Homo sapiens: one gene and its partner. The gene in region 2 interacts genetically with the main gene of each other region. Each region holds a gene or a part of one and is shown on either strand. Other genes may lie near its edges. The genes, in order: KAT2B and ONECUT1.

Region 1 (3,814 bases), on a different chromosome or scaffold from region 2:
CCAAAAGTGCTTTAACAGGTTATTCAATCTTCCCAGGGTAGAAGACAGCATAGATTGTTATTAGCTAGTAAAAATGTTCAAATAATGGGCTTTCATTCATTTCCTCAAAGTCATTTTATAGACCTCAATTTATACTTTTCAGCTTTTTCTTAACTTCCAAGATTAATCTTATTTTGTACTCTGTTAAATTCACTGTAGATTAAGACAATGAGGCTGAGTCAATGTGTGTGTGTGTGAGAGAGACAGAATGTGTGTGTGTGTGTGTGTGTGTGTGTACTTCTGGTGTTGTTTTAATAAATTGATTGATATTATTATTGCACACAGTGAGACAGAAAGAAGGAAACGGACGTGCATGAGCACATGTATTCCTCCAAAGAAGTAACTGTAGAAAAGATTTTACCTACATGACTGATTTCGGGTCTACTAAAAAGAAGCAAAATGATAGTTCGTTCATTTTTGTATGTCTAATAAAGATGGTATTTGCATGCTATTTTCTTACTGTTCAAATAACTCCCAGATTTTTCACATCATGATGATGATTTGTAACTTCTGTGAACAGAAATTAAAAATGTGAACACAGAAGACCATGTCATTCTACTGACTTGCTGAACTGAAAATCCTGTGGTTTTCAGGAATAAACTGATCTGCCCTAGTTCACAGGGACTGAGGCCCAGTTACTTAATTAAAGTCCAGACTAGAAGTCAGATCTCCTGTTTCCTAGTGTTCTTTCCATGCTTCCTGATAAATCTGTTCTAGACTTACATGTCTAATAATGAATGCTCAGTATACATGGCAATAGGCTGTACATCATAGAAGAATGGCTAAATAAAACTGTTTCCCAAAAACAAGTTAGTTCTAGCTAACTTGCTATGTATTCTTTTTCTTCTTCTTCTTCTTTTTTTTTTTTTTTTTTCAGACAGGGTCGTGCTCTGTCACCCAGGCCGGAGTGCAGTGGTAGGATCATGGACAGCTCCAAGCAGCCTTGACCTCCCGGGCTCAAGCAATCCTCCCACCTCAACCTCCAGAGTCGCTGGGACCACAGGCTCATGCCACCACAGACACATGCCACCACACCCAGCTAGTTTTTTATTTTTATTTTTGTAGAGATGAAGTCTCATTCTGTTGCCCAGGCTGGGCTCAAACTCCTGGGCTCAAGCGATCCTCTCGCCTCAGCCTCCCAAAGTTGCTGGGATTACAGGCATCAGCTACTGCACACAGCCACTCTGTATTCTTATGAAACATCTCCCCAGTGTGGGGGTAAGCTTTAACTTTCAAAAGTTCTACACAATTCAAAATCTAAGACTAATTACTTGCACTTTCCTTCAGCAGACTGTTGGACAGTTGTATTTTAAGAAGTCATAATCCTGTGACACTTTCTTTTTAGGTTATTTCTTCATGGAATTAAATAGTGTACTATCATGAAATTCAGGAACTTCAAAATATTTGCCCACATTTTTTTCTATAACCACAATTGCTCCTGGGAGTATATATAAGGTACAGTTAACATACACTTATGTAACAATATTTAGGTTGAGCAAGGTGGCTCACGCCTTTAATCCCAGCACTTTAGGAGGACGAGGTAGGCAGATCACCTGAGGTCAGGAGTTCGAGACTAGCCTGGCCAACATGGTGAAACCCCATCTTTACTAAAAATACAAAAATTAGCCAGGCATGGTGGCACGCACTTGTAATCCTAGCTACTTGGGAGGCTAAGGCAGGAAAATCGCCTGAACTCAGGAGGTGGAGGTTGCAGTGAGCTGAGTCGCGCCACTGCACTCCAGCCTGGACAACAGAGTGAGACTCCATCTCAAAAAAAAAAAAAACAAAAAAACAACAAAAAAAGAATACTTATATTTTTCTTTTCTTCAGAACAGAGAAGTAATTTAAGCAGTACTACTGTTCAGTCTGCTTTTAATTTTTATGGAATAAATATTTACAAGTTAGCTCTGTAATGAACACAATCATTTTCTAAGTCCAGTCTTTTCCACAAAGAATCCTGTTTAACTTCATTTTCAGACTGATATACTGCAAACATTTTCGGCACATCTTTGTTCTAATATTTACAGTAACTGCTGTAAGTTATAAGCTGAACCAGCGTTATAGGTCCTGAGGTTCTCTTACAGCAACATCAAGATAAAGCCTGCTGGTGCCTGCAGCCAGTAATATTACCCATTTTTGAGAAGATCAGTATCAGTGAGACATCATGCTGTGGTGGTATGTGGTTTTTTTAATTCCCCATGTGGTCATGGCAGTGAGGTTTTACTCCGAATATTGATTCTCCTAATTTTCACAGGTTGTTCCTCTCTACTTCCCTTTCCTCATCAACATGACGTGATGGTGGGGACGTGGGGGAGGTTGGTGTCATCTACCTTCATTTCCTTATTTATTATTAATAGGGGCTATTGGTCTACATTTCACCTAGAAATCAGCACGTTTCAGAACTCATTAGGGCATATTCATTTCTGTTTCTCTCAGCAAGTTTCTCTTTCCCATTGTCTGACTCCACTTTTTGCCTTCAGCTGTTGGCTCAGGAGGCTGGGCTATAAAGGACTCTTTTGCTGTTTTTCTATTCCCTGCTATCTTAATTTCTAAAGCGATATTCAAATAATTACACACTCACTCAATTATACATTTAAGGCTTTAGCTTAATAAGCTCCACATTGGCAGTGACTGAGTTTTAGAGAACAATGTGCATGGGAGGAAAATGATGATGAGCATCTTCCCAGCACCTGCTCTGTGTGTCAGAAACTACATACAAACCACCCATGGAATACTCACAAAAGTCATGACACTTGGACAGAGAAAGAAACCAAAAGTCTCTTTAGACCAGAGACTGGTCTAAAGCTCATGTAAAAAGGGAGAGATGGACCCACACCATTCAAACCCAGCACTCATCCAAACCAATTTCCATTTTTACTACTTCTTAAGTATTCATAAGTGCCACCAATTTCTTAGTAATTCTCAAAGGCTGCCTTGCATTTTTCTTCTGTTTTCTAAAATATCATAGCTGGGCACAGTGACTCACACATGTAATCTCAGCACTTTGGGAGGCCAAGGTGGGAGGATTGCTTGAGGTCAGGAGTTTGAGACCAGCCTGGGCAACACAGCGAGACCCCATCTCTATAAAAAATAAACAAATAGCCAGGCATGGTGGCATGTGCCTGTAGTCCCAGCTACTAAGGAGGCTGAGATAGATGAATTGCTTGAGTCTAGGAGGTTGAGGCTACAGTGAGCTATGATCATGCCACTGCGCTCCAGCCCAGGATACAGAATAAGACACCATCTCTAAAAAAAATAAAAATAAAAATAAAACAAAATATACTAATGTCTCCCAAGCTGCTTCACAATTAATTCTCCTTTTTCTTGATGAAACGATTATTTTCTCTGCTAAAAGTCGCAAATGCATTCAGGGCCCTGGCTTTGACAAATATTCAGCTTTGTCAATTGTTCACAGACGGGATTAAAAAATACATATTTTTGAGAGACTTATCGTCTCAACTCTTATTATAAACAAGAGTTTCAATAATATAGCAGAGTTTCAATAATACAGAACTATTGTTAATGTAAAATCCTAAAATGAAAGATACGGAAATGAAGATATAATTTAAAAACTTATTTTGAAGAAATCTGCAATTCCTATAAATATCAATTATTAAGGAGAAAATACTTTATAACTGAAATTGCATATATTTGCAAAAGTGAAGAGAAAGAGAGGAAAAGGGTGTGTTACACATGAAACTAGGTCAATGTCAGAGAGGAAAGCTTATTTTAAATTATACAATTCTTCCATGTTATCTGCTGTTACAGAAAATAA
Region 2 (3,814 bases):
TTTTCTTAAATGAAAACACGCCAACAAAAGCATACTTCGGATACAAAATCCAAGTACGCATCTTTTTTGGGGAGGTTAGAGCTGAGGTGTACTTCGGAAGATGAGAATTTTGTTTTCATGAATTGGGTAACACCCAGGCATTGTTAGGTACCCCGACAGACCCTCTAGATATCCTTCTCTTCCTCCTTCACACTTTCTTCCTATCAAAATAGTTATTGTTTTGAAATTCACTAGAACAACGACGTTCTAAAAACAAAGGCGCAGCAAGCATCCCTTTCTTCGCTGCCGCGGGCTGAACCACGGACGCTCGCGGGTCGCCCAGCCCCGACGGCCCGCAGGGGGCGCGCGCCGCAGCCGCAGCACAGCCCGGCTACCCCCAGAAAGGGAGCCGAATGGAGGGAAGCAGGGAGCGCGGAGGGCTCGAGGCTTGCAGATAAGGAGAGGCGCATCCTGGGATTTGGGTCCTCTGCTGCTACAACACAACCGTGCTATTGTTGGCACTGTCCGACCCAAGTGTCGGTGGTAAGCGGCGATGTCGGGGCTGGGTCTCTAGCAACCGCTGTGCCCTGGGTCAGGCTGGTCGCCCCAGCTACCGGGATCCCTCTCCGGATGCTTCCAGGGCGATAGGTGCTGCACCCATTGACGGGATAGCCGCATACCTCCGAACAGGTAGTGGAGTTCGTCTCTGGCAGGCATCCTAGCTGCGCTGACACCAAGGTCGCCACACAATAGCCATCAGCCCCCCTTAAGCCCCAGAAGTAGGTTTCCCCTGCCCCAGCCATAGCGGTTCCAGTCGTCGCCACGAGCCCACTTCTTATCCCCAAGCGCACCTCCCTCTCCTCACCCGGGTTTATGCCCGTTACACAGAGAGAACTACACAGGGGGAACTATGGTCCTACACCCTCGAGGGGACAGACACCGGCCGTGAGACAGGCACCACGCAGAGCCTTCTGGTGACTGTCCGCAGGAGCGAGACCTTTTTTGGTTTTGCAGTCGGCTAGGTGTGTGTGTGTGAGGGTCCCCAGTTGACTACCGGGATGCACTGCCACTTTTCGGCCTGGCGGGCTCTGGGACTCCTTGGTCTCCGTAGGAGGCCATCCTAGGCCTTCGGAGGAGGCGCTCCCAGCTGGCGGCGCCCCTCGCCCCGGGCTCAGAGGCGGACACGGTCGGTCGCGCCCTGCTGGCCCTTTGTTCGCGCCGCAGCGGGCTGGGAGCAGCTGCGCGACACCAGACCCACAGCGCCAAGACGCGAAGCGCGAGGAAACCGCTGCGCTTGACTCCTTCTCCCCCAACTCTTGGACCCAGGAACGCTTCCAGCTCCTGCGTCCCACACGCCCAGTCCTGGCTTCTCTCCCGGCCCAGAAGTCTTCAAGGATTGAAGGGCTCTGCCTAGGGCCCCGCACTCCTGCCTGACTCCCATGGCCCAGAAAAGCAGGGGGACATTTGAAATGTCACCCCGGGATAAATATTAACAAAAAAGCAAATGGACTTGTGCAGGGGCCAGTTATCAATCAACCAGGCCGCAAGGCCACTCAGGGCAAACACAGCCCAGGTTGGGCTGGGCGAGACTTTCTCATGGCCGCCCCCCGACCGAACCCCTCCCCCCTTGGCTCAGGTCCTTCTTAGGTCGTTCTGGGGCAAACACCGGACGGGAAGGGGGCGCCGCCAACTCCCCCGCGGGGTTTGGAGGTTTCCTCGCCTCCAAGTCCCGCAGGGCAGGGTCGGAGTGCCCAACACCCACCCCCGCCCGAACCTCGGGCCTGCGCGCCGCCTTCCCCTGGGTCCGCGGTGCTGCGCTTGCTGTTGGGTGTGTGTCGCTGTCTCTTTCCGAGCCGGCAGCTCCTGCTGTGTGGCCGAAGCCCTCTGGAATCTTTAATTGGAAACTAATCTTGGTCTTGATAGACGCCCACGTCAGAGGCGCGCCACCCACCCACACCCCCCGCCTCATCCCGGAGGAGACGCGGCGAGAACCCTGTCGCTCTGCTCTTTAATGGGGCAGCAGCAAGTAGTACATGGAGGGAACATATATTGATTTTTAAAAGGTAGTTAATTTGGTGGGAATTTCCTCCTGTCGCCCTTCTTCCACCAGCCGCTGTTATTTCGTGACCGGAAGGCGCCTCCCCAAACACAGCGCCACGTGCAAGAGGGTTTTGACCCTCTGCAACAGGCTGCCGGCAACTGGAGGACAGAGGGGCGTGGAGAAGCCACCACTCTCCCGCTGCGGAGCGAAGGAACCGAGCTCAGTGAGCCCTGACCTCGCAAGGTGGTTGGAACGAGACTGGGGAGGGTCTCTGAGCGCAACAGCAAGGAAAGCTGCCAGGGGCACCTCCCCATATGGGAGCTGGTAGTGGGGGGCAGGCACTAATGTCCCGTAGGAACGGCCAAGGCGCTCTGCAATCCATTTTAAGGCTCATGCACTTGGCCCGTTAGAGATCATTTGGAAAGTTCAGAAAATAACCCCACTCTTTTTAAAATATGAAAATGTTAATGAGATGGCTCCTTCTTCAGTAACTTAAAAATAGGTTGTGAAGAGACTGTTCCTGGTTCCTTGCAGGAGACCCTCCTGGACCAACACAGAATCCTCAGTCCTAGCCCTTTCCACCATCCCTTTTAAGTTAAGGAAACAAAAATGTAATAGACATGCTTCCTCAGGGTCTCAGGACACAGAGTCGGCTTGGTGTTTGGTGCCAAATGCCTGCCCTGCTGGACTCTCCAGTGTTTCACTTTTTCGAGGAAAAGGCCATGGGCCTAGGGCCGAGGGCTGCATGGACCTCTACAGGTTGCTGGGTGCCCAGGCAGGCGCTCCTTCGATAGCCTCCTGGGTGCCACAAGCACCTGCCAGGCACCATGTTTGCGCCTCCAGCGTGCGGGTCCCAGCACTCAGGCTCCCTCCCCCTCCACAGTGCCGTCCCCTGAGCTCGGCTATGTAGCTCTCCACGCTTGGAGGTCAGAGGGCGCTCCTGCGGCCAGGTTTCCATGGCTCAGAGGTCGTCTCTGAACAGAACGTGTCAGTCTGTCCTTCCAGGGGGCGACAGCAGGCAGTGGGGGGAGGAGGGATATTGAAGTCCAGAGCAAGAGCCTCCAGGGGGCGGGGGTGGGGGATGGGGACCGAGTTTTCCCGGAGGGGTAGCCTTCTCCATTTCTATCTTCTTCCCACATTCCCCCGCTCCACTCTTTGGCTTCAGCGGGCACTGCCTGGGTAAGAGGCCCTGAAGCCTGGCTCTGGGGTGGTGTGGGTGTGTGAAAAGGCACTACCTTGGGCTCTGGAGAGACGGAGCAGTCAGGACGAGGAGCAGCCCCTTCGCCCACTCCCTCCGGAACCTCAGTTGCTCGCGGGCAGCCCACGGGTGGAGATATGGTGCCGGTAGCACAAGAGCTAGAGAGTGGAAAACCGGGGGCCAGCGATTCGCTGGGGCGCCCAGCGAGCCTCTTCTCCCCTGACTGGTTCCCGGGCGCAGGCTGCAGGAACCTGCATGAGGACTTTGCCTGGGGCGAACGAAGGCAGAGCTGGGCTGGAAAACCTGGCAGGGCAGAGTCTCAGCCAGCGCGGTGCTTTGGGACCGGTGGCCTGCAGCGCCCAAACCCAAAGAACGCTTTGGGTCGCTTCGGGGCACGAATCGCAGGCTGGTCGGCACCTGCCACCCCCAGCTTCTCATTGGCAGGCACGAGTTGGAGGAGGGGGCTTTGGCCTCACGCTTTGATTTTAGACTGTGAAACGGCTCAGTGCCCCCGGCTCAGAGCGGATTGACTGTCTCTCGTTCTCCAGGGACGAATTAATGGAGAACGATCAGTTAATTAACAAACCCTCATTCCG

Evidence for each region.
Region 1: of ONECUT1 (region 2) and KAT2B, changing one enhances a phenotype caused by changing the other (phenotypic enhancement), as found in Homo sapiens cells (one study listed by BioGRID).

What each region holds. Positions count from the first base shown.
Region 1 is NC_000003.12:20,102,900-20,106,713, reverse strand, and holds part of KAT2B (histone acetyltransferase KAT2B), read right to left. Parts: intron 1-3,814. UniProt on the Homo sapiens protein: Functions as a histone acetyltransferase (HAT) to promote transcriptional activation. Has significant histone acetyltransferase activity with core histones (H3 and H4), and also with nucleosome core particles.
Region 2 is NC_000015.10:52,783,752-52,787,565, forward strand, and holds part of ONECUT1 (hepatocyte nuclear factor 6), read right to left. Parts: intron 1-3,814. UniProt on the Homo sapiens protein: Transcriptional activator. Binds the consensus sequence 5'-DHWATTGAYTWWD-3' on a variety of gene promoters such as those of HNF3B and TTR. Important for liver genes transcription.